Linked DNA regions of Homo sapiens: region 2 is linked to region 1. A link means that fine-mapping ties the variant in region 1 to the expression of a gene that starts in the linked region. Tissue or cell type: whole blood. Region 1 holds a variant in brackets; the other region holds the start of a gene. All regions are shown on one strand. Distances are between the middles of the regions.

Region 1 (2,756 bases):
GATTTGCCCATTCCGGACATTTCCTATAAATGGGATTGTACACCATATGGCCTTTTGTGACTGGCTTCTTTCACTCAGCATAATGTCTTCAAGGTTCATCCATGTTGTAGCATGTATCAGTACTCCAACTGCTTTTATGGATGAATAACATTCCATTGTATGGATATAACACATTTCATTTATCCATGAAAATACTTTGTAAAGGACAGAACAAATGATGCTGTCAGCATCCGTGGGGCTGCTTGGGCAGTATGAACATTTATAAATCATCCTTCTCTGCCCCTTCTACCAGGACTCATGGGCACTGTCCAAACCCTCCCTACCCAGTTGTACGGATTTTCCAAACGCACAGTGGCTCAGGATAGCAGCCCTGAATCTCACAGGCCATGATAGAAATAACTCAAATTCCTTCCGAGGGAATGTTCAGTGCCTCTCAAATTGTGTTATATACATCTCCATGGTTGGTCCTGGTAACCTAAGATGGAAGTGGCAAGGGCAGCACTGGCTTTAGGAACATGCAGCCCGTGCGGTCTCACAGGACCCCATGCTTGCTGAAGGTGCTCTTGTCACCATCTTGAAAGTCTTAATGATTTTTAATCAAGAGGCCTCACATTTTCATTTGCACTGAGCTCAGTAAATTATGTAACTAGTTCTGGGTAAGAGGCAAGGGATTGGGAAGGGGGAAGAATTTGGTGATCTTCCCAAAGCTAGTGGGACTATTACTGCTGTGTTATAACAGCTCATTGGCCAGGTTGAGGGGCAGGTGAGGGGTTGAAGGGAGGTGGAGATAAGCGGATGAGGGGTACCAGCTTCCAAAGAAAGCCCAAGACCATATCTTCCTACGCTGAGGGCTGAACACTTGGCTGATAAGGCCTCCCCAAAACAGCCAGACTAGCTGAAAGCAAACTTGATAAGTCGAGGCGATACAGGCTCAGACTGTCAAGCAGAGGGAACTCAAACTGAAACTTGTTTGATCTTGTGATTGCTTATAGGTTGAGACCAAGAAGAAAAAAGAAAAAAAAAAAACCCACATTTACTAAAGTAACCGGCACTGAGAAAACTTTTTAAATATTTACTTTTTTAAACTGTCACCTTTATTTTCAGCATATCAAGAAAGTCATGGTTTCATCAAAAAGCTGATATTCAATCCAAAGAGGGCAGAATTTCAAATGCAGAGGTCTACATGGATTTCAGTACTAGAAGGGACCTTGGGAACAACCTAGATCACTGGCCCTTGTCTGTCAGAGGCAAAGACCCCCGAAGCCCATCTGCATGGATCCCTAGGAGAGTCGATGCCTAGTCCAATTCTTATTTTATACATGAGGAAGCTGAGGCTGAGAGAGGGGAAGTAACTGTCCAAGGCTACCCACAAAAAAGGGGCAGGACCTAAACCTGGGAGCTTTCAGCTTCCCCTCCCAACCTCCCAATTTTATGAACACAA[C/T]CAAAATTTATATATTGTAGGCTGGGCCGGTGGCTCATACCTCTAATCCCAGCACTTTGGGAGGCCAAGGCAGGCAGATTGCTTGAGTCCAGGAGTTCAAGACTAGCCTGGACAACATAGTAAGACACTGTCTCTACTAAAAATTTAAAAAAAAATAGGCAGGCATGGTGGCATGCACCTGTAGTCCCAAGCTACGCAGGAGGCTGAGGTGGGAGGATCAATTGAGCCCAGCAGGTAGAGTCTGCAGTAAGCCGTGATGGCACCACTGCACTCCAGCCTGGGTGACAGAGTGAGGGCTTGTCTCAAAAAAAAATTTTTTTAATATATTTTGTGTGTACCACCCCCCACAGTCTTTCCCTGGGTCCTCAGCTCATCTTCTAGTACCTGTCTTTTCCTTGCCAGAAAAGGGAGTCTAGGCATGGTAGGTACAAGGGCCACGCAGGATGAATGGAGCTCAGGAAATGTTGCCAGCCTACCATGCCAAAGAGATGGATCCACATGGCCAATGGAAAGCAATGGAGTCTCCACCACCCCAGCCCACTGTGTCCTTTTCCTATAGAGGAGACTAACCAAATCAAACCATCCTTAAAACCAAGGGCCTGGAGGCCTTTCATTTCCATTTGTGTTTATCTTTCCTTCCTCCCCTCCCTCCCACCTTTGCTCCCTTCCTTCTTTCAACAGATAGATACTGGGCACTTACTATATGTCAGGCATGTATTATTTATTTATTTACTTGACAGAGTTTCGCTCTGTCACCCAGGCTGGAGTGCAGTGGCGCAATCACAGCTCACTGCAGCCTTGACTTTCCAGGCATCAACAATCCTCCCACCTCAGCCTCCCAAGCAGCTGGGACCACAGGCGTGTGCTACCACACTTGGATAATTTTTGTATTTTTGGTAGAGACAGAGTTTCGCCATGTTGCCCATGCTGGTCTTGAAATCCTGAGCCCAAGCGATCCACCCACTTTGGCTTCCCAAAGTGCTGGGATGACATGGGATTACAGGTGTGAGCCATCACGCCCAGCCTGTGCCAGGCATGTTGTAGGTTCTGGGGACAGAGTAGTGAACAAAACAGAACAAGTTTTGGTGTTTACGTTCCACAGGGAGGAGACAAAGAAAGAGTTAAATAAATATCTATATGCCATGCCAGACGGTGATAAAGGCTCTAGAGAAAAGGAATACAGGAGGAGAGGGATCGAGAATGGTGAGGAAGGAGGGCATTTTATCTACGACGGTTGGGGCAGAGGTCTCTGGGGGAAGAGTGGAGTCAGCCATGCAGATACCTGGGGGAAGATATTCCAGGCAAAGGATCAGCA
Region 2 (2,756 bases), 73 kb after region 1:
ACGACTTCCACGCACTCACAAGACAGCCCAGGCCATGCTGAATTGAAGCCATCCCCTTCAGTACTGGCACTTGCCAAAGCTGCGTCTAGTCTGGGGAAGAGTTTCCACAAAGCTGGCTCTAACAGGCCGGTAGAAGACACACGGAGGAACCAGAAAGCGTTTTCTTGTAACCTAAGGATGGCAGGCGCACATGCTCCAGTCCAGTGCTGGCCAGAGGCTGCCTGCCAGGTGCTCTCGGCCTCCGCTGGTGAAGGAGTGGTTTGGTTGGTTTTTAATATCTGTTTCTTAAGACCACCGGCAGTAACTTCCCAGTCTCCCAAACTGAAGTTGGGGAGTGAAGGAACAGGTTTACCCCCTTACACATTTCTCCCATCTGGGTGGCCACACTAACTTCTGGGGAGTACCCAGCCCCCACAGAGCCCGCAGGCGCGTATACATACACATATGTATCATGTCAAAAACCCCAAAAGGCAGAGTCCTGCGGTTTCTTAGCTGGAGAATGAAGCCTTTATAACATCACAACCTCAAATGCAAGCCCACCATCACTACCTTTAAGCCAGGGTTGCCAATTATAGCGCCCACCTCATCCCTCCCCCTTTGCTGGGATGCTGTGCAGCCCGGAGAGGGAAGAAGGGAAGAAGGGAGAAGGCCTGCTTGCATAGTGAAAGTAAAGGGGGGGGAGACTTCTCCTTCTGTCTCCCCACTCTTCCCTCCCCACTTCGCCCCACCCCCGTCTTCTCGAGGAGCATCCCCAAACTAATTTTTTAAAAATGAAACTTAATAAGCTTCTTGCCTACCTTGGCTGTTTCTGCAACAAGTGCATGGGCAATCCGACGAGAAGACCAGTATCCGCTTGGGGGGTGAGATGGGGGGCGAGCAGAGCTGATGGAGTAATTTCAATATTAATTTATGTCAGCCGCCTTCTCTCAGCGCTACTCACTTACTGTACTGCCCTCAGCCTGTAAACAAATATCGCTCCGCCAGGAAACATACTCCCCAGATGCAAGCCCCTCTCCCCAGCAGGGAACCTGGCCCCTCGTCCCCCCGACAAGAGTGTGCTCCCCCACCCAGGGTAGGAAGCTTTGGGTTTCCAAAGCACCAACCCACCACCTCCTCCACCACCCCAGCAAGAAACTTACTCGGTCCGTCTACGCCTCCACCCTCCCTTCAGGAAATCTACTCTCCATATGCATTCAGCCTCCCCGCAGGAAATCTGCTCCCCCCTCCCCCCTTCTATATACATGCACCCCTCCCTCTCCTCCTCCCCATGCGCCCTCCCCGGCCAGAAACTTACTAGTGAGCAAGCGTGCAGGCTCTCCTGATGCTGGAAACTTACTCCCAGATATAGCGCCCGCCAGCCCCCTTTCCCAGCCCTGCTCCCCTTCCTGCCCTCCGCCGCAAGCAACTCCAAACTCTCCGCATCCAGCCGTTCTCCCTCCCCAGTGGAAATTTGCAGCGCCGGGCTGCGCGCGTGCATCCACCCTCCCCTTCAGGAAACTTACTCCCCATCTGCATGCACCGCCTCTCAGCCATCGCTTAGAGGGAAGGGGGTGTGCTGGGGAGACAGAAATACATATGTATCTCTCGCCCCTCCCCCGGTCGCAGCCCACTCGGGGCCGAGCCGCGGTAACCTGGCCTTACCTTTGCATTGCTCCCCATCCTCGCCCCCTCCCTTAACCCTCCTTATCCGCTCCCCGGTACCCCCCTTTTTTCACCCATTACCCACCCCTAGCAACCGTTCCCAAGCTCCTCTCGGCCTTTTTTTTTTTTTTAAATCCAGGATGCAAATTCCTCCCTTGTCAGCAAATCGACTGTCAAATTATTTTCTTGCAAAAGGAGAAAGGCGGGGTGGGGGGGGGGAGCAGGAGCAAAAAGAGGGGGAGGGCGGGGGAAGGGAGGGGGAAGGGAGGGAGAGGGACCGAGGAGGGGAGATATCCCTCCGCAGAGCTGGGTCTGGCCGCGGGCGGGGAAGCAGGAAGTAAGGTGTCCAGCGCCGCGACCGGCTGGTCGTCCGCCTCGGCCCCCGCCCGCGTCCCCTTTCCCCCGGGGCGCAGCGCTACGGCGGGCGCGGGCCGCCCGGCGCATTGTTCGCAGCCTTCGCGGCGGTGCGCTGCTGACTTTATTTGTGCGCTTTGCGTGTGCGTGAGGTTGCACCTTTTGTAGGCTGGCGAGTCTCTGGACGAGGATGGGACGGGGGACACGGGCCCAGTTGCGGCCCTGCGCGAGCGGGACCTGTCAGCCCTGAGGTGCAGCGGACCCTCCGGCATGGCCGGAAAATCGAGGCCGGGGAGAAGGCAGCGTGGCCGGGAAGCTGCCGCCTTAAACCCGGACCAGTGCAGGATTGCTTCCTGCGTAGCCGTCCCGGTTATTGTAACACGCTTTGCAAGCTAACGACTGGGGTTTGTGAGGGGGTTTGTTTATTTTTCTAAGTGTTTGCAAAGATGCCGAGGTCGAGGCGGGCTGCGAGGAGACGGTCCGCGCCTACCCCCACCGCACCCTGGCCTCGGTGGGGCTGGGAGAGGGCTGGGGCTCCGGAGAAGGGGCTGGAGGTTCGCGAAGCGCGCGTCTCCATCCCTCCGCCCCGATGGGGGCGGGGAAGGGGTGCAGTAGACCGCGCTGGAAGAGCAGCTCTCTGGGGAGGGGTCTCCCTTGCCGCGGCAGGCGCAGCAGGCCGGGGAGGGGGGTTGCCTAGGAGAGGGGCCGGGCGGCGGAGGGGAGGGGAGGAGAGGGGGCGCGGGTGCAGCCGCCGCGCGCGC

What was found. PIP is the estimated chance that this variant, and not a neighbour inherited with it, causes the effect.
Region 2: TRERF1 starts here. The variant in region 1 is fine-mapped to the expression of TRERF1 in whole blood (TOPMed, PIP above 0.99).

Annotation. Positions count from the first base shown.
Region 1 is chr6:42,377,375-42,380,130 of GRCh38, forward strand. The region is part of intron 2 of TRERF1 (transcriptional regulating factor 1); the gene reads right to left. Among named protein-coding and RNA genes, the nearest start is that of TRERF1, 73 kb to the right of the region's middle. The variant C/T (reference allele first, on the strand shown) is at 1,442.
Region 2 is chr6:42,450,380-42,453,135 of GRCh38, forward strand. It overlaps TRERF1 (transcriptional regulating factor 1), which reads right to left and starts at 1,547. Exons shown (of 18, transcript NM_001395490.1): 1 at 1,295-1,547; 2 at 798-882. It overlaps LOC124900214 (arf-GAP with GTPase, ANK repeat and PH domain-containing protein 2-like), which reads left to right and starts at 1,981. Exons shown (of 4, transcript XM_047419627.1): 1 at 1,981-2,756. The coding sequence starts at 2,442. LOC107986596 (a long non-coding RNA gene) reads left to right here and starts at 1,981. Exons shown (of 5, transcript NR_171668.1): 1 at 1,981-2,246. RefSeq lists silencers at 2,012-2,091, 2,562-2,756.